Linked DNA regions of Homo sapiens: all the other regions are linked to region 1. Evidence: fine-mapped expression QTL. A gene starts in region 1. Each other region holds a variant in brackets. All regions are shown on one strand. Distances are from middle to middle. Region 1 holds the start of ZRANB1 (zinc finger RANBP2-type containing 1). Region 2 holds the start of MIR4296 (microRNA 4296). Region 3 overlaps ZRANB1 (zinc finger RANBP2-type containing 1). Region 4 has its middle 25 kb from the start of ZRANB1.

What was found. PIP is the estimated chance that this variant, and not a neighbour inherited with it, causes the effect.
Region 2: its variant is fine-mapped to the expression of ZRANB1 in lung (TOPMed, PIP 0.96).
Region 3: its variant is fine-mapped to the expression of ZRANB1 in whole blood (TOPMed, PIP above 0.99).
Region 4: its variant is fine-mapped to the expression of ZRANB1 in whole blood (TOPMed, PIP above 0.99).

The regions. Positions count from the first base shown.
Region 1 is chr10:124,939,182-124,944,333 of GRCh38, reverse strand. It overlaps ZRANB1 (zinc finger RANBP2-type containing 1), which reads right to left and starts at 2,211. Exons shown (of 9, transcript NM_017580.3): 1 at 1,027-2,211. The coding sequence starts at 1,840.
Region 2 is chr10:125,031,484-125,036,635 of GRCh38, reverse strand. The region is part of intron 3 of CTBP2 (C-terminal binding protein 2); the gene reads left to right. It overlaps MIR4296 (microRNA 4296), which reads left to right and starts at 3,766; the gene lies at 3,766-3,853. The variant C/A (reference allele first, on the strand shown) is at 2,867.
Region 3 is chr10:124,985,728-124,990,879 of GRCh38, reverse strand. It overlaps ZRANB1 (zinc finger RANBP2-type containing 1), which reads right to left. Exons shown (of 9, transcript NM_017580.3): 9 at 2,691-5,152. It overlaps CTBP2 (C-terminal binding protein 2), which reads left to right. Exons shown (of 11, transcript NM_001329.4): 11 at 1,182-5,152. The coding sequence ends at 1,362. Among named protein-coding and RNA genes, the nearest start is that of MIR4296, 45 kb to the left of the region's middle. The variant A/G (reference allele first, on the strand shown) is at 2,612.
Region 4 is chr10:124,914,286-124,919,437 of GRCh38, reverse strand. It overlaps a transcript of ZRANB1 not described here. Among named protein-coding and RNA genes, the nearest start is that of ZRANB1, 25 kb to the left of the region's middle. RefSeq lists silencers at 1,886-2,155, 2,216-2,575. The variant C/T (reference allele first, on the strand shown) is at 2,521.

The sequences.
Region 1 (5,152 bases):
AAGGTATAGTTAAAGCTTAGCTATTGTTCCACACAAAGTTTAAACTTAGTAATCATTCAAAATTTCCCTCATAAGACCAAATGTCAAAGCAAGCAGCCCATCCAAATAATTTAATAAAAATCAAACATCTAATCTACTCAAAAAAAAAATACTGAAGACTCAAGTCACTGCTTTTGTGAATTACATCACAATTAACTCACAAGGTCAAGAACTGAAGAAAAACTCTGCTCTCCTATGTCTCTGTCCTTTAACAGCATTTCCTGAGGAAAATGTCACAATACATATGAACCATAACTTGAAGTATGGAATCAGCTGGCTACATGTAATCAGTTCCATAAAGTTTGCAAACATTTACTACATGACATTCATGTTAAATTAACACCAGTATTTTCAAGGTCAATATGTTTGTTCAACTTCTTGGAGTCACACATTTTTGTGGTATTTTTAACATCTGACTAAAGCTTCTATCATCACAAGATGCTCACACTGTTTACAAATACTTGGAAACAGCAGCTGGTGTTCCTCAGTTACATCTTGTTACAATAAACAGAGTAGCAGTTTTAAAGTCCAGGTATATATTTTACTGCTGATGTGTAAAAACTTTGCTTTAACTTAAACGTTTCCACTGCCCCCAGTAATGGAGAGACATGAACACAATTAATTGTGGGCAATTTAGTACAAAGTTACGACAAGATCACAAATACACAAATTTTTATGTATGCATACTTGAAAGTACAGCTATCGTGCTGAATGAATCAAATGCTAGTGACTTTGCGCATATATATATACACACACACACACACACTCACATTTTTGCATGTGCGTGGAGACACAGTCTCACTATGTTACCCAAGCTGGAGTGCAAGTGCTATTCACAGACCGATCATGGCATACTACAGCCTCAAACTCCTGGTTTCAAGCAAGTGGCTAAGACCACAAACGTGTGTCAGCGCACCCAGCTCTTTTCATATCATTTTTACTACCTTTTCCCATCCCACGCAAAAAATGCAGAATACAGAAACTTACCCACACAAGCATTGAGGAAGAGCCAATCAGTCTTTTTCATCCTGTTTTTAATTTGCTTTAGTTTTTTAAAGTCTACTTCAAGTTCCTCCTTGCTTCCCACAGCACCAGCCAATTCAATCCTCTGAAAATCCATTTTCACTTCAGAGTCCCGCTTCGTAGCAGGAGGTGATCTCCTTTGGCTATTACCACTACTGCAACTTCCCCTCCATCGAGCTCTGTCTTGCTCATTTATTATTGAAGAAGCCTCTTCAGTCTCTGCCAATTCTATTGCTTCAATGTTATTAGGTCTGGGATGATCACAAACAACACATCTTTTAGCCTTGGCCCAGTTTTCATATGTGCAAACAGAGCAAGTCCAGTGCTGTGTCCTAGTGTTCAGTTTATTTCTATCATTGTATTCCTCACAAGGATCAACAGAAAAAGCAACTGGTCTTGAGCCAGATCCTGAGGACTGAGGAGATTCTGTAGGACTCCTGGTCCTACGTTGGGATAAGCACTGGGTACATCTGATTGCTCTTGGCCAGTTCAAATATGTACACATGTGGCATGACCACTTATTTGCATTTTCCATGCTATACGAAGATTTCACCCTTGGTCTTGCACTAGAGTCTGGACATATCAAAGGACTACTTCCTCCTTCGGTGCTGGAAGGATCCCAATCTCTACCAACATCACTTGAACCACTTTTAAATGGATCTTCTGTAATAATTGTTCCACTAGGTCTTTGGGCACGACACATAGTACACTTGATTGCAGATGGCCAGTTTTCATACGTACAATATTCACAAGCCCACTTAATTCCACGTTCTGACATTGTGCACTTCTTGAAGTGAGCTGTGTCAGGCAGGAAGCTATAAATAATTAGGACATGGTTATTAAAATAACTACATTCCACCTCCAAAAATACGCTGCCCAAAAAGCAAGTCCTTCAACCTACAAAATATAAATTTCTCAAAAGATGCATGCAACATTTCGACATTGAATTATCCTAATTTTCTTTTTTAATTTCCATAGAAACACTGGAGATAAATTCTCAAAGAAAAAATCTTAGACCCTGGGATTTAATAAAACTGAACTTTGGAATGCAAAAGAGATAGGCAGGAGATATAACGAGGTTTGATCTAAGAAGGATGAGATTAACGGGAAGCCACTAATAGAAATGTTTAATTTCAGGGAGGCCATCACATCAATTTAGAAAAGTAACCAATAGTTTAAAGAGACAAAGGTAGAGGAAACAACACAAACTAAAAAATAGCTTAAACACATAACCATTCTCAAATTATGAACACAGATTATGATTCATGAATTCAGAAGATCAAGCAACGTCTATTTTATCATTCTCGCTAAGGGAGAAAAGCAACTTAAAATGCTAATTATCCACTGTTCTTAATTAGCACAGGTAGTAAAGAAACATGTTGAGAAGTAATGGCTACAATTAACAAAGTAACATTATGAAATAGGTAGTTCCTTGATAATCTGTAGCCTCAAAATCTAGTTCTATCTGGAGTAAAAAAAAGAAGACTGTACTGGGGAAAATTAAATCTGTGGAAGGTCACTGAAATAACCAGTAGCATAATCATTCCAATATAATTGTGAATGTTCATAATTAAAATATTTTAAATTTTGAATATTTAAAATATACTCAAAATCTAATTCATGGCCGGGGGCAGTAGCTCAAGCCTATAATCCCAGCATTTTGGGAGGCTGAGGCGGGTAGATCACAAGGTCAGGAGTTCAAGACCAGCCTGGCCAAGATGGTAAAGCCCCGTCTCTATAAAAATACAAAAATTAGCCGTGCATGGTGGTAGGTGCCTGTAATCCCAGCTACTCAGGAGGCTGAGGCAGAGAACTGCTTGAACCCGGCAGGCAGAGGTTGCAGTGAGCTAAGATCGCACCACTGCACTCTAGCCTGGGTGACAGAGTGAGACTCCATCCCCTGCCCCCCAAAAAATCCAATTCATATTTAAAAGATATTCACACTACTTAAAAGATTTCTAGGATTCAACAATGGGCTAACACTACACTATAATGAAGAAAGACTTCATAATTTAATGGCAACTAATTCATAAATGAAGCAACTTACATAACAAATTTAATTTTTTTTTTTTTAATGGCTTGAATTTAGACACTGGCCACTTTTCCTAAATACTTTTATCAACTCAGTATCATCCCAACACCTATTTTTCACCCGGAAAGAGAAAGAAATCCTAGGCAGAGTATAGAAGCTTTGCTCTCTCTTTCTCAGGGATTTTTCCTGAACCTAGAGGGTTAAATCTTTTGTTTGTTTGTTTTTTTGTTGTTGTTGTTTTCATTTTTGTTTTTTTGAGATGGAGTCTTGCTATGTTTTGCCCAGGCTGGAATGCAGTGGAGTGGTGCAATCTAAGCTCACTGCAACCTCCACCTCCCAGGTTCAAGCGATTCTCCTGCCTCAGCCTCCCAAGTAGCCGAGATTACAGGTGCATGCCACCATGCCCGGCTAATTTTTGTATTTTTAGTAGAGATAGGGTTTCAGCATCTTGGCCGGGCTTCTCTTGATGAACTCCTGACCTCGTGATCCACCCACCTCGACCTCCCAAAGTGCTAGGATTACAGGCATGAACCACCACGCCTGGCCTAAATCTTTCACTTTTGAAGTATACTGTATTATGTTCCTGCCTGCCAAGTCCATACACCATTTATAGTGTGAACTCTGCTAAGAAGAAAAAAAAATCACTATAAGAAAGTATACTACTTAATAGCTAAAATAAAAACCACACTTACTAAGATTTTAGTTCCCACGCTATAACCTCCACCTTGCACATGATTAGAATAAAAGTACGGTTTGCAAATCAGATCAAAGACAAGATTCCGTCTTCATGCTGGCTCAGAATTCTGACTTCCTCAGGAGATACTGCAAAACGTGATAAGTGGTTCTGTCTGACTGAATAGCTATTCCTGTAAAGGAGACCAAAACTGAATTTCACTTGAAGCCTGCTACTTTAGCTAAAAGATTTTTAAGGCTTTATTTTTATCAATTCTCTATTTTAACCCTACTCACTTATTTTAACAATGGACAACTATATTTAGAATTTTAATTTAACAAAACAATAAAATTGGCTAATCAACTGGGCTGGTCAGCCAAATTAAACATGGATGAGACATTTTTCTATATAACCTTAACCCTGTGCTGTGTACACAGTTCTAATATTACTATTAATTTGGCAGTGCTAAGTTAATTCCTACCTGTATTACTCTATTACTAAAAGGGAAAAGATGATAAAATCCAAAAAAGTAGAAAAAGCAAAATAATTGCTTATATTTAGCTATGAAACCACCTTCAGCAACTGCATTTTTTTCCCTGATCCAAGTAATATAAAATTATCTTGTTTAAATTTTTAAATTTAGTTTGTATAATGATTACTTACAAACTGATAGCAGCCCAAAAATGTGTGGAAGAGCAGAGAACTATAATGATATAACCATCCAGAAAGTAGACAATACAGATTTAATGGCAATTTTCATACTCTTTAGGCAGATTCTTTTAGTTTCTCGGGAATGAAATATAAGTTACTTGCTCATGCTACTGGAAATTAAAATGAGCATGTAGAAACTTATTAACAAGATAAATGCCATAATGAACATATATCCAGGGCTACTCTAAGTAATTTCAATATATCTTTTAAAATATTCACATTCAAAATCCATACTTGTTTTGATAAGTCTTACTATGTTTGTAGGTGCAACTAAACAGCCCGTAACCTTATGTTATCTTAGCTAATCTTCATGTAACTAATATGCTGGCACAATATATTTAAATGTCCAGGCTGATTTAAAAAACAAACAAAAAACTGTCATAAAAAATAATCACTGTCATAAATGCCTGGTAAAATAATGGACAGACAGCTGCCTAATTAGCCCACCAACCTCTGAAAATCCAGGTAACTAAGCAATACCAAAACCAAGCTCAAGAGTTTTGAGATGTGCCTTATATTAGATAATAAGCACAGTGGCTCAAGTCTTTAATCCCAGCACTTTGGGAGAATGAGGTGGGAGGATCACTTGAGTCCAGGATTCAAGACCAACCTGGGCAACACAGCAAGACTCCATCACTACAAAAAAGGAAAAAAAAAAAAAAACACGATTTTTG
Region 2 (5,152 bases), 92 kb before region 1:
TTCTATCAACTACTTGTAGAATGTTCTGTATTGATATGCAGAGAGCCTGTCAAACTGTTTTTTTCTCCCTCCCCACTGCCTACACCTGACACAGGGACTTCTGCGTCCCTTAGGTTTGTTTTTTTTTTCTTTCTAAATGATTAAAAGCATGAAGCTGCCATGTTCTGCTGTGCTTACCCGGTCTGCTCCCAGGCTTGTAGGAACTTTGTCTTCCTGCTCTTGGTGTCTGGATACACCAGCTCCTTAAAATTCGTCCCCTCCCGCCTGCTACACAATGCCAACATCAAGCCCTGGTCGTGGGTCCCTAGGCTGGAATCAGGCAGGCCTCTCCAGGGTCCCACTCCAGGTACTCCGCTGGAATCTGAGCATCACCCCTGCACAGATACTTGTACAACCTTTCCCTGTTTTCTAAGGCCTGTCCAGCCCCTTCCTCTTTGAAACTTTTCAAAGCAAGAAAAAGTGGCATGGAGCTTGATCCTTCTGTGTGCCCAGAATCTGCCGTGGGGATTCACTCCGCCAGGCTGTGTCTCTACTCGGAGAGCAGGACACAGACAGTCTTTGGGACTCCAGCCAAATGAGCTGGAATAATGGTCTTTCTAGCCAATGTAAAAGCCACATTTTAATTTTTTTAATGTAACTCTTTGAGTTTGCTATTTATAATTGTTCCTTTTTTTTCTGATGCCTGCTATCAAGCAATCCTATAATACCATGTAAGAATTATTACGAAGGAGCCCTCTCGTAACACAGGCTGATCAGAACAAGATTGTGGTCTCCTCATTCTCAAGTATAATGGAGATCTTCCTATCTGTTTAGTCTGCTGACATAATTGACATTGTGAACTGCACCAGCTGGAGGGTTTTAGTACCTACTTTATCGCATTATGCCAGAGCTCCTTTGGTTTGCCCCAAACATCTATTGGTTGGAAATGAGGGCTAGCTAACAATCACTCAGCATTGCAAAGGGAACCCAGAAGAGCATCTTGCAGAGCCCTGGGTTTGTAGAACTTAATAAACCACAATGGCTGTTGTTGGTGGTAACTTTTTGTTAGAGCTGCTTCTTGTGGATTATGATAGAATCAGTCTGTAAACACTGCTCCCCTTTCCTGCGGCTGTTGCGATTGCAACTTGAAAAAAGTATGTGTTTCGTTTTACTGCGTTTTGTTCGAATGTGTTAGAGACGTGGAAAATGGTCCCCCGAGGATGGTATCAGCTGAGTTGTGAGTAGTCCCCTTGTAACATGACTCAGGGAGGGTGCTTCTCCATTTCCTCTGCAAAAATAAAAGGGACCTCCTCTTAAATAAACAAGCTCATGAAACATTCCGCACCTCTGGAATGTTCTCACGACCACAGAGGATAAAAGGAATGAGAACGTTGAGCTGGTTGGGTGGATATGAGGAAAAAGGAGACAAGCTGGTTTCTGTGAAACACATAGATAGTTAGAAAGTCTGGGAATCTCATTCTGCATCACCTTTGTCGCAGGAGGATGAGAAGTCTGAGAAGATGCTGCCGGGGATGAGGTGGAAGGGAGTTTCCCCAGTGGGTCTCTTCTGTGTCGCGGGCTCTTCTGCTCTTCTCAGTGGGTTGAACTTGCCATGGTGGAAGCACATGTCAGTGGGATGTACCCCCAAGAAAGGTCATCCATACGTATAAGGAACAAAGACAGGCGCCTCCAGGGTCAGCAAGGTTACCCAAGTGGTCTAGAAGTCCCTCTGGCTCTTTCCTTCTTCCAGCAGCCTCCTTGCCTGGCAAACACCCATCAGAGCCTCCAGGATGAGAGAGTGACTTTCTCTTTCCCCGAGGAAAGAACATAATCCACAGAGTGTTGACAAATGGTTTTGTTTGGTATTTAAGATTTATTTGTTTTTGTTCTGAGTAGCTGTTTTCTTTTCACCTATCTTTGTACAGATGCATTATAAAATCAGGACTTGTTTTGTTTTTGTTTGTTTTTTTAAAGCACTTTGAGCGCTTCGTAAAGAAACAGAGTTGAAGCCTGCCTATAGGTAGTCCACAAACAGTTCTAATAAATAACTTTAAATAGCCCCAAAATGTGGATTTTAAAAATGGGATTCATAATGTTGCTATACATTATAATTATATGTTGGGATCAGGCAATTATGCACATTTCCAGCAATTATGTGATTAGCTGTAATTACATTAGCTATGTAAATATACAATAGTCAACTAGACATGCCTTAAAACCCCAAAGCACAAATGAACATACCCAAACAATCTTATGCAAAGGTAAAGGTTCAGGAAACAGCCAAGGCAAAGCTTCACAGACAAAAGTGCGGTTCTTTGCAAGGGGTAAAGTTTCATGTTTTGCCTTATCTGTCCCCGGCTTTAAGAGAAACTCAGAGTGGGGGACCCCTCCCCAGGGAACCCCTCACCCCACCTGTTCCTCCACCGACTCTGGGGATGGGGTTCATAGACTGCCCTCCCGTTCTGCAGCTGTGAATCAGGTTCGGTGTTTTATTTCTCTGTTGTTACTCATTTCTCAAGCACAAACATAAGCGTCTCTTTGCACCGGTCAGTTTGGTGATGGGCGGATGTCTTCATACTCACCACTTTTTTCTAATAGCAACATGTTAAGGCCACTTTGCTTTTATTTGGGGGGCCAGGGATGTGTAGTGCAACTGGAGTCTGTGGCTGGGGTTTGGGGGTTCATCACCGTCTTCTAGTTTGGTTCTGCAGCTGCGGTTTTCAGCTCCTGCCCCTACCACAGTGAATCGCGCTGTTTCCCACCGCCTGGTTGGTGGTGCCCTGTCTCCATCGATGATTGAGTTGAAACCTCCCACAGTGTGGCCCGGAGCCCCTGGGCCCAGCTGCCCAGGGCTTTACTCTCAGTGCCTGTCCTCTTGGTCCCGGCA[C/A]CTTTGGGAAAAGAGCATCTCTAGTTTCAGGCCAAGTCAGTGCCTTGAGGGGAGCAGTGCTTGGGGTGGGCAGGGGGAAGGAGTGCCGCGGGGGGAACAGTGCATCCGTAGTCTCCGTGTTTGGAGGAGGCCCCAGGGTAGCCAGACAGCAGCAGACAGCAGCCCGCACGAATGCGGAGAACCTTCTGCGCGCTTCACACAGCTCAACCTAATTGACAGGTATTTGGGGTGACTGTGAACCAGAACCCCAAGATACATTTTGCTGCCGGCTTCTTGCCCTCTCTCCTTTTCCAGAACGTACAGTGTTAAAGCTGTGAAATGAGACTCCTCTCTGATTGGTTTCTACCACTTGGCTCGCTTGCTACTAAAGCTCAGGCACCTTGGCGTGCGCGCTCGAGGGCGTTCCTCTGTCTCTGTCTCATCTCCATCTACAGAGTGACCTCACGTGCCTTTCTCAGCCCTTCCACATCCAGCAGGAGCCTGGCTGAGCACCCCAGCTGGGCTGTGAAGATGCCGAGAGGGGAGAGCATTCTGGGTGTCCAGCGCTGGGGCACAGTGGGATCCCACACTCCCTGTCCCTCCAGCCTGTTTCTCATCACCTGAGGGTTTTGTTTTCCGTGTTCCGGTTGAAGAGATGTCTGTGCCAGGAGGGTTCCTCCCTTCCCATTTGCAACCTGGGATGGGTGACGCAGATTTATCCGAGACTTGGGAGTGAGGCTGAGAGTCAGTTCTTTCGTATCCTAAGAAAGGCTGACCGTCCCATCAAGGCCCGTGTGCTGAAACTGTCCGTGTGCAGGCTCAGGTGGAGCAGGTCTCTGTCAGGCAGCCATTTGTATTTGGGCGGTGGGTGCTTTGCCTAGCTTAGTGCCTACCATGCCCAGGCTTGCAAATGGGGCTGTTTGGGCTTTGATGTGGGCTCAGGCTCAGAGGGCTGAAGTGGTTGTGGGGAGGGGCTTCTGGGGACTGTGTCCATGTCTCTGTCGTTTTTCCCCATCACACCGTACACTCCCTTGAGGCCAGCCGTCCATCACCATTGAGTCATAGTCGACAGTTTGATTTACAGCCCGGGTGTCAAACAAAATGAAAAGCACGTGATGAATGGAGGGAGCACGTGCTGTGGAGGGAGGGGTGCGCTCCGCTCCGCAGGTCAGGGGCTAAGCGGCCATGCCTTGGCCTGTCTCTACAGGCACATGCATGCCCTGGACTATTTTTGGGGTGCCTTTCTCATCTTGAGGAGTGGCAGGTTTTTTGGACTAAGGACAAAGTGACAGAATTGGACTGAGAAAGGTTCATGGGGGAGGGCTCGCTGAGCCAGCCCTGATTAGGAGCATTGCTCACAAAACCAGAGGAAGGACGGCATCCTGGGACCTTCTGATCGCAGGACAGCCGAGGAGACCTCAAACAGTGGAGTGTGATGGGGCGGGTCACCATGGAGGTGAGGTGGAGACTTTGGGAATCTGCAGGAAAAGCTGCTAAAGAGCAGAAGGGGTGGTGTTCATTGAGCACCTACTGTGCGGAGCGTCTTGTGCCGGGTGCTGTCCAGAGCTGAGCACAGCCTCTTGAGGTTGAGTGTGTTCCATTGCTAGAAATGGGAATCCTGACATGGTCCAAGGTGAGGCCTGTCCTGCATCCCAGCTGGGGTCCCGTTGCACACTTTGGCTCCACCAACACTTTCAAAATGGGCAGTGCAAGAGAATGGGCTTGTTTTTTTTTTTCTTTTGAAACCCCATAATGAGTGGTCTAATTTTCATAATGCAGTTCCCAGGAAGCTTTACAATATAGTTAAGAAATTGAGTCAGAAGCAATGTGCAGGCCTTTGTTTTCACTTACCATGGCTAAATACTGAGAGACATGAGGACTGGGGCTTCTTAGGATGCAGCTAATCTGAAAAAGGCTGGGTTGGTTCAGACACTCGACGTCACTCTCCTGACTTCCTTTGGCGCGTTGCGTGGGTGCCCAAGCCTCCGCGCTCCAGGCCCAGAAATTGGTGAGAGCACTCAGTGTGCAAGCAAGGGTGCACGGTGCACTCAGCCCCTTTGATACCTGAAACGATGTCTGGGCAGTTTTGCTAATTGTTGCTGTGTGCTTGCGTGATTTAGACGAAGGCTGCTTTAAAACCCAGCCAGACTTTGTGTTTGCTATGTAACCAGTGCATTTGGTGTGGCCTCCCACCCTTTGCGTTAGATTAGCCAACTTGGCTACTTTGGGTTGAGGACGTTCGGGGGCAGGGGGTAGGGGGTTGATGAGAGGAAAGACTTTTTTTTTTTTTTTTTTTTTTTTTGAAAT
Region 3 (5,152 bases), 47 kb before region 1:
GGTCAGGTTCTGGTGACGGCCAGGCAGCAGACCGTCAGCTTCTTCCCACATCCTCATATGGCAGAGAGAGGGCCAGAGCACTGACTAGACTCCCTTGTGTAAAGGCACTGATCCCATTCATGACCCAGTCATTTCCTCACCCAGTCACTTCCCAAGGGCTCTACCTCTTAAGGTCATCACCTTTAAGGTGTGGGATTTGAACTGGAATTAGGGGGATGGAGGGAGACAAACATTGAGTCCCTAAGGGTCCATTGTACTCTGTTGGGAAATCATTTTATCAGTCAGAAGTAACTGGTGAACAGTTGGGAGTCCATTTTGTACAAAGTGGGTTTTTTTAAATAGTATAATGTATCCACATTCATAAATAGTATGGGCTAATATCTTCTTATCTAAAAGCTACAAAATTAGTGGCCCCGTGTTTGGATTGGACTAGTTTTGTTTTTATGAATTAGTTGCCAGTGTTTTATATAAAAATTGAGACTTCTCCTTGCTTTGGGGATAGGGAAGATAAACTATCCCATAAAAATCGTTAGCCAGGGCCGGGCATGGTGGCTCACGCCTGTAATCCCAGCACTTTGGGAGGCTGAGGCGGGCGGATCACGAGGTCGGGAGATTGAGACCATCCTGGCCAACGTGGTGAAACCCCGTCTCTACTAAAAATATAAAAATTAGCCGGGTGTGGTAGCGCACACCTGTAGTCCCAGCTACTTGGGAGGCTGAGGCAGGAGAATCACTTTAACCCAGGAGGCAGAGGTTGCAGTGGGCTGAGATTGCTCACGCCACTGCACTCCAGACTGGCGACAGAGTGAGACTCCATCTCAAAAAAAAAAAAAAAAACTATTAGCCAGGCCTGGTGTCTCTCGCCTGTACTCCCAGGACTCTGGGAGGCCTATGATGGGGCATCACTTGAGCTCAAGAGTTTGAGACCAGCCTGGGCAGTCTGGCAAAACCGCATCTCTACAAAAAAATACAAAAACTAGCTAGGCGTGGTGGCTCATGCCTGTGGTCGCCACTACTTGGGTGTCTGAGGTGGGATCACTTGAGCCCAGAAGGTCGGTCAAGGTGAGCCATGTTCATGTCACTGGGCTCCTGTCTCTTATGAAAAGGCCAGAAGTAGAAGAGCCAAGAGCTTGGCAACTCTGCCCTGAACTTACAAGGCCCTATTTCTGTGTGTTCCTTAGATATCCGCCAGGCATCGTGGGTGTGGCTCCAGGAGGACTTCCTGCAGCCATGGAAGGGATCATCCCTGGAGGCATCCCAGTGACTCACAACCTCCCGACAGTGGCACATCCTTCCCAAGCGCCCTCTCCCAACCAGCCCACAAAACACGGGGACAATCGAGAGCACCCCAACGAGCAATAGCAGAGAATGCCAGAAGGTAATCACTCAGATACACTTGGGACCAAGAGACAGTGAAAAATAGATGAACTAAGAGAAAAAGAATCGGATGGTCTTTGTAACTGATTCTGGACATATGCATCATTGATGTTGCAGTGTTGAAACTACAAGAGCTAGAAAACTGAAGATGTCGTCTGCTTACGGAAGCGCTGAAAGACTAGGATGTGATTTATTAACGACCAACTTCTGTTATTGTGTGTTAAGTTTTTCATCTGTGCATCAAATCACAAAAAGAATAAATAGAGCTTTTTCCTTTATCAGTCCCTTGGGCACAGCAGGTCCTGAACACCCTGCTCTACAATGTTGCATCAAGAGTTCAAACAACAAAATAAAAAATATTAAGAGGAAATCCCCATCCTGTGACTTGAGTCCCTTAAGTCTACAGGGGCTGGTGACCTCTTTTTGCTAATAGGAAAATCACATTACTACAAAATGGGGAGAAAACTGTTTGCCTGTGGTAGACACCTGCACGCATAGGATTGAAGACAGTACAGGCTGCTGTACAGAGAAGCGCCTCTCACATCTGAACTGCATACTGAGCGGGCAAGTCGGTTGTAAGTTCAGTAAAACCCTCTGATGATGCAAAAAAAAAAAAAAAAGTATTAAGTTTCACAAGCTGTTTGTACTCAAATATATTTTCTCAGTTTCAGATCCTCTGCTATTTTATTGAGTGGAAAGTCTTGAGCTAAAAGGGTTCAAGAAGAATAATGTTGCATTTCCTTATGTCTCAGGAAACACTTTTTATGGTAACTTGTCAGATTGTCTATGAACAAACCCACTTTTTTAGACATTGATAAAGTCTTCTTTTCTTCACGTGATATTTTATACAAGAACACTTCAGATGTATTAGATGTGACTGATTTTAACAAATCCTATTAGATTTGTATCAACTAGTTACATGTTCTATTCATAGTCTTTTGTGAATCATTGCCTTTTTGTTTAAAAAGATGGCCTATTTTGAGCCTTTGTATAGGTACATTCCTGTTTTTGTGACAAAAGAAAAACTTTAAAATTGTCCCAAACAGAAAAATAATGGCTATCAGAAGTATGTTTTGTTTTAGTGTGAGTTACCGTTACTGTATTTGTTTATTGTAAAGGTGGACATTTAGCGTTCAGTGCAGTTTTCAATAAAAAGTAATTAAAATTTGTTAAGTTCTGAAATTCAAGTACATCTCACTAATGTAAATGTTCTCTACTTGAGATGTTTAAGGCA[A/G]TTGCATTGTCAATTAGCCAATTTCCAGCTCTTGTTACTACAGGGTTCCATAACCAGACTCAAGACCGCTGACAATTAATTACCTGTGATAACAAAAAGTTTAATTGAAAAATCAAAACCTCACACAAGTCCATCATTATCACGTCATGCCATCCTTAAGATGCAATGGTGGGTTAGTGCTAAATCAATTCAAAAAAAAACAAAGTTGCTCAACTTTTAGAGTTCTGACTTTAATCTACCCCAAAGCAAAATGACCTGGACCTGGTTCAAGGGAGGGAAGTGAACCTTGAAACTGTTTTGCCAATAACCTAACAAACAAAATGATATTTACAAAGAAGTGTTGCAAATAGTCCCATGAGTTAAGAGCTTGATTTAATGGATCTTCTTTTTAAATAGAATTAAACCTTTATACTAAAAGTATTTGCAAGTGTCAATTAAGTCCAACAATTCCAGGTATGAAACTCCCTCTGAGCTCTTCCTTATACTTCCCTTCCCAATTAAAACAAAACAAGAAAATCATGGTGTCTTAAAGCCTTTGGCTTGCCTGGCCTTGTCTGCTCACTCATTTTAAGGTGGTGGCCCCATCCCAACTCTACCATAAAAGTGTCTATTAACACAAGCTCACATGGAGAGAGACGGCGCTCATAGTTACTGACCTATTACCCCAGGGAACAAAAAGGTAGTTTAACGTCTTCGTAACCACTCATCAAAGAGGCAATGAAATATGCGTGAAAAGGAGGCCAAGCGCACACAGAATATCTTACCTTCACGAATATGTGAAGAAGTCTGGGACACGATGAACCTAAGAGTCAAAAACATAAAAAGGCAGGTCTGAATCCATGGTCCACCTGGGTTTTAATTATTAGATCTTGGTCGCCCAAACAAAAATTTATATATATATATATAAATTTGACCCCAAGGAAGAACAAGTCAAAACAAAATGCCACGCTCTGTTTGCTCTAGAAAAAGAACCATCAAGTCCACAGAGTGCAGGTATGACTTACTCTCCAGAGTCAGTCATTAATGTCTGTCACCTAGCCACGTATAATCATCTTTGAAAAAGGACTATATTCTATCTTGGGACAATAATTATGGCTGTTTTAATAGTTCAAGAGCATAATATAGCATTGATTTACCAAAATTTTTGGCCTTTAACAGCCAGTCTATGAAAACCATTTAGAGCCCCATTCCTGTCTGTAGCCTAGGAAATGGAACCATCTTTAATTCTTTCCCACAGGGAAGAATGCTGCACCTATCACACTATGTGGTCAGGGTCACTGATTGATAATAAATAAATAAATAATAGAGCGCTCAGGGGAAACAACACTCACCAGACCACAACACACAGTAGAAGCTAAGTGCTGAGCGTGTACTCTGGACAACGCTGGCTGCAATGCAGACTGCAATGGCTACATGCTTTTCCCTCTAACAATTCTCTTTGGCTTTTTCAATTGGGAGGGCAGATTTTGCTTAACAGGCAACTAGAACAGGATCTCTGCCCACTAAAAAATTATCCCTATACATAGAGAAATTACTACAGATGCTAAGTAGTCAGAATGCTAACATTTTCTACAAACTTGATTACTTATTGGCCAAAATGAAAGCAAACAGCCAATTTTTAACAACACATTCACCACTTGAAACAAACAGCAGCATTTACATTATATCAAAGATTCATTTCTACAGAATCGTACTAAAAAATCATTTTTCCTGCAAGATTTAGCATGCAGCAAAAAATGATCTTTTCATCCTGGGAACACCTTTTTACTGAGTTTTCGGGGGGAAAGAACTAAAGACATGACAGTTTTGTGGGTATTTTTCTATTTTTAGTATTCTGGCAGCAAATTTGAGGTTGTACACATTTCATTATCAACTAAACAAAACAAGAAGCAAGCAAATACTTTAAGGTTTTCACAGCCTTTTTCATCACAGGGAAGGAAAAAACTGTGTGTGTGTGTGTGTGTGTGTGTGTGTGTGCGCGCGCGCGCGTGCGTGTGTCGTCTTTCCAAATTCCTGGCCACATCAATAGTCTAGAAAGTGCTTATCAGGACACCAAATATTTCTGTGTTCCTGAGATAGGTCTGAAATTTTTACCCAGTATTGAATGTATACCTGAAGTGGTCAAATAATACTTCTTATAAAAAAGTTTTTCTACCTAAGATTATAGTTTTAACTTTAAATTAAAGAATGGCCACAATTAACCAACATGCAAAAATTCTCAGACTAAACACTGAGAAATTCTTCATACAATGCATTTGCCACCTTATTGCATTTTTAAAATCTTTATTCTGTAGTGAATTGGTATTCCCAATCTGCCTAAGCAAAGGCATGCCCTTCTAACAAGATTTGCTTAGAGCAGAGGTGATAGAAGGAAGAATCCGAAGACCCTCTGGCATGGCAATCTGGGAGCAGCACATTGTTGATGGAGTCCAAGTGAGCACATTTCACACAATTCATTTAGTGACAAGTGGGCTTGCTCCCTTTTCATCCAGGAAAAAAACTACTCACAGACCACTGCCCAGAATCTGGAATAAGAACCCT
Region 4 (5,152 bases), 25 kb after region 1:
GTAGCTGGGATTACAGGCACACGCCACCATACCCGGCAAATTTTCTTGTATTTTTAGTAGAGACGGGGTTTCACCATGTTGGCCAGGCTGGTCTCGAACTACTGACCTCAGGCGATCCGCCCGCCTCAACCTCCCAAAGTGCTGGGATTATAGGCATGAGCCACGGGCCCGGCCAGTGGACTACTTTTGTAATTCACATTTAAAGTTTACATTTATTATAAAGCACATGGACAAGCTCTCACTGTATCAATTACACATATGAAGCAATTTGCCTCATATATTGTACAACTAGATCATGAGTTCCAAAACTATGTTAATCCTCAGACTTTAAATGTGACATCCATAACCCCTATCAGTGTACAGACATGGATCAAGGCCATGAGCTTAAAATATATTACCATGAATGAGTTCATCACACCCAAGCACATTTCAAGAGTAAATAAATGGGTGTCCCAATGCTCTGAGGCATTAATAAAAGGTATCGAAACAGCAACAGAAATAAAATCCCTCATGACACTCAGATAACATCCTCCTCAAAAGAGCAAAATGTCATTACTGTCCTACTATCTCGTAAACCCCCAACAGCCCAATAAAAACAATGTTATGAAATTTTAGTATAAAGAGACTGCCTATCTTTAGAGCCAAAAGTCAATAGGATTCTAAATTTTTTTAGAATTCCCTCATTTAATTCAAAATAATAACAAGGAGACAAGATCCAGCTTTATTTCTCCCATAGTTCAGATGACTTTCCCAAGAGCCTTGGCACAAGCCAAGATCAAAATTCCTTATGGTTTCCCCTGGCTTATGGTTTGTACACTGAGTCATCCATGTTTGACCAAAACAGGGGTACTGCTGGATGCTGCACAAGTGATAAAAGAAGTTAACTAAAACACACAGGTAAAGAAATAACTCATTATATAATAGGTCCCAGAGTTAAAGATTTCTCTCAGGCCAAGCGCGGTGGCACATGCCTATAATCCAGGACTTTGGAAGGCCGAGGCGGGCAGATCACCTGAGGTCAGAGGTGCGAGACCAGCCTGACCAACATGGAGAAACCCCATCTCTACTAAAAATACAAAATTAGCCGGGCGTGGTGGCGCATGCCTGTAGTCCCAACTACTCGGGAGGCAGAAGCAGGAGAATCGCTTGAACCTGGGAGGCGGAGGTTGCGGTGAGCCGAGATAGCGCCACTGCACTCCAGCCTGGGTAACAAGGGGGAAACTCCGTCTCAAATACAAAAAAAAATTATCTCCAATTGTGTTCCTAAAACGGTATTTTTGCACATTAGATTTATTAACATCATCATAAACACGGTGAAACCAAAATACTGGTAAGATGGGGCGGCGCTTAAATCGATAGTCTACGGAGTTACAGAAAAGGGTAATCAACTGACTGAAATACAATATCCTCAGCAAGAGAGTTTCAAAACACCAGTGTATCTCAAAGATAATGGGCCGGTTCAAACTTCCAGGCTTAACCTAAACTGCCTGTCCCTTGCGCTTAATGCCAGCATTCACTACAGTTCTTTTGTCTGTGAAATGACCCGCACCAAACCATAGCAGAGAAAAAACAGATCCTTGCACTGAACACTCGTTACTGCGAGCAGGAGGGGTAGACGAATCTTTCCACTAGCTCCAGCTCCTCCTCCCCACCCGCCTCGTCGTCCCCCACCTTTATTTTCCTACAAATGGCAACTGGAGGCCACCGCAGGAGGTGGAAAGCAAGCGGCCGAGGGACTGAAATACAAGTTTGGAGACACCAGAACCAACTTGTGGCGATGGACCCAAGTGTTTACGGCCTATTGCGGAGTGGGAGCGAAACCCCACTCGCCGATCCGTCTCCGGCAGGAAAAGAAGTTGTGGGGAAATCTGGCGGAAGAGCGGCGGTGGGACCGGCACCGCGTCCAGCCACGGGCGGCCGGCGGTCGGTAAACAAGCTGGGCGGACCCGCCCTCCCACAGCCCCCGGGCCGTCCCCGCAACCGGAGCGCCCAAGATGGAAGCGCCGACAGCGGCGGCCCGGGCCCCTGCCCTCCCCGCGCCTGCGACGCGGTCGCCCCTGGGGCGCCGGGCGGGCGGACAGCCCGTGAGGCCCGGCAACCTGGGCGCCGCCTGGGAGCGAGGGGCCCGGCAGGCCGCGGTGGGGCGCCCCCCGGGGCCCGGTTACCTGGCGGCGGCGGCTCCTCCTCCAGCTCCTGCTCCTCCTCCCCGTCCGACGGGCGCTTGGCGGCGGCGGCGGCGGCGGCGGCGGCGGCGGCAGCGGCGACTCCCCGCGCAGCCCGCGGCTACGAGTCGAGCCCGGCCCCTCTCCGCCTCCCTTCGCGCCGCCGCCCGCCCCGCTGCTGCCGCCTCCGCCCTCTCCCCTCAGTCAGGACATGGTCTCCGAGGGTCCGCGCGCGGCTCCCGGCTGCCGGAGGCCGGGGGAGAGGAGCAGAGAGGAGGCGCGGAGACTGGGGAGCCCCGGGGGGCGGGGGCACTGAGGTGTGGGAGGCGGCCGCGGGCGCTGCGGACCCTAATGGCGG[C/T]GGCCGAGGGACCCGGAGCCAAATAAACCCCGCGGCGAGCGGCACAACGTCAAGGCCAGACCCCGCCGCTCGCCGCCCTGTCATTGGCCCCGAGGCCGCCGCCGGCGCAGCCAATGAGCGACCGCCTCTTTCCGGGCTCAGGGGGCTGGTCGACACAGGGTGACGTCAGCCGGCGCGCGGCCCTGATTGTGAGTCGGCGGCGCGCGTCGGCCCAGTTCCCGTTCCTTTCCGCGGCCGACTGCGGTCTTGAGGGTGCTGGACTGCCGCGGGGTGCGTGGCGCTCGGGGGCGCCGGCTGACGGCGGCCTGGAGGGCGTCCTCGGCGGTGTCTGGACGCGCGCTTTGCCTCTTCTCTGCGACAGATGCGCCAGAGTTTTAAGTTAACCCCCAGGTCTCACGTATCCTAAGTGATCTACCTATAACCTAGATGCTGCTTTACTTTTTCTAAGGGACTTTGAAGCTCTTCGTAAAACACCAGGGAAGATAAAGCTCTAGGTGCTTTGTGATGGTTTGATTTTTTAAATTTATGTTTTGCAGTGTCCGATTTTTACCCCTGCCTTTGCTGGGGCTATCCATGTATATGGATGTATGTGTATATTTCTCTTTGCTTTCTGCATGGTACATGTGTGCGTACGTAGATGGACACGCGATGAAAAGTCATGGAGAGCTTGCCTCTTGCTCTCCTCCAGGACTCCCTGGCTCTAGTCTTGGGAAAATCCGACCTTCTTATGGCTGCCTTATCTGTAAATTAGAAATAAGCCTTTCCTAATAAGACTTATTTCTGTAAATAAGCCTTACCTATCTTCAGGCCCAGGATAAATTACAGCTATGGAAAAAAATACTGCTTAGGAGAATCACCTGGAACCAAGTTCTAAACAGAATATGTGTATTTCTTTCTTTTTGTACTATAAAAGTAACCAAATAGCCAGAATAAGCCAGCCATTTGTTAAAACCCCATGAGTATGGGAAATTTTTCTAGCTAGAGAGCTTTGTTTTTTCCCAGTGGGACTTTACCTTGTAGTTTTCATGCTTAAAATTTTGTGAGGAGAAGAAAGAATTTGAAAGATCATAAAAGACAGCAACTCTTTAAAAGCTGTAAATTTAAAAGTTATCTATTAGAGAAAACCTATCACTACTGCCAAAGGGCGTTTAGCAGTTGGATACCTCAGGTTCAACAGGAGGACCATTATTCAGAGTTTAATCAGATTTTTAAAATTTGAATGGGACTTCATTTAGTAAAACTATTCATGGTGTTCTGGCTTTCTCTTTGCATAAATGTGGTCAAGAATGTGTGTTTAGCTTCACTATGGCCAGCAAACAATGATGCTGTATCTTATAGATTCCCCTCTCCAACAACATATTTCGCTGGCATATTTTATTCTCATAGCCATTCCTATAGTGTAGAGATTTTCGACAATCCTTGTCTGCCCAGAGCAACATTACTTATTCAATAAATTGAGTTTAAATTGCAAGTCTTTTGCCTGCAAAACTTAACATACATTCTCATATATATTTATATATATGAGCTATATATATAATTAACGTATAATGAACACAATTGTAGATCAGATCAAACACCATGTTACCATGTTAAGAACAATAGTTAGGCCAACATTTCAACTTTGAAAATATTTTCTTTAAGAGCTCCTGAATTCCTCCAGCTTCCCCTTCCTGAATTCAGACTGCAGAGCCTCTCAGTTACAAACTAACAGGAATCACAGAATTAGGTGTTTTTGTTTCGCTTGAGTTGTAGTTTATTTTGGGAAGGAAATGGGATATCACTGGGATAAAGTTTATTATCTCCTTCCTCAGTTGAGTAAATAGTGAATATCACGTACCAATGAATAAGAAGCCTACAAAGGTAAGACACATCTTAGTGAGGAAACTACAGCATAGAGAAAAGAGTAAGACAGAAATAACCGTAATTATGGCCAGGCACGGTGGCTCACCCTTGTAATCCCAGCAGTTTGGAAGGCCGAGGTGGGTGGATCACCTGAAGTCAGGAGTTTGAGACCAGCCTGACCAACATGGTGAAACCCCATCTCTACTAAATACAAAAAATTAGCCGGTCGTCGTGGTGCATGCCTGTAGTCCCAACTAGTTGGGAGACTGAGGCAGGAGAACCTCTTGAACTCCGGAGGCGGAGGTTGCAGTGAGCTGAGATTGTGTCATTGCACTCCAGCCTGAGCAACAAGAGCAAAACTCCGTCTCAAAAAAAAAAAAAAAAGAAAGAAAGAAAGACCTGTAATTATAGGTCGGGCACGGTGGCTCACGCCTATTATCCCAACAGTTTGGGAGGCCGAGGCAGGCAGATCACCTGAGGTCGTCGGGAGTTTGAGACCAGCCTGGCCGACATGGTGAAACCTTGTCTCTACTAAAAATACAAAAATTAGCCGGACATGGTGGCACGTGCCTTTAACCCCAGCTACGTGGGAGGCTGAGGCACGAGAATCATTTGAACCCAGGAGGCAGAGGTTGCAGTGAGCCGAGACCGTGTCATTGCACTCCAGCCTAGGCAACAGAGTGAGACTCTGTCTAAAAAAACAAACAAACAAACAAATAAAAAAATAGAAAGAGAGAGAGAGAGACAGATGTCCTATCGAAACAATCCCTAAGAGGGGGGCCTGGGCATG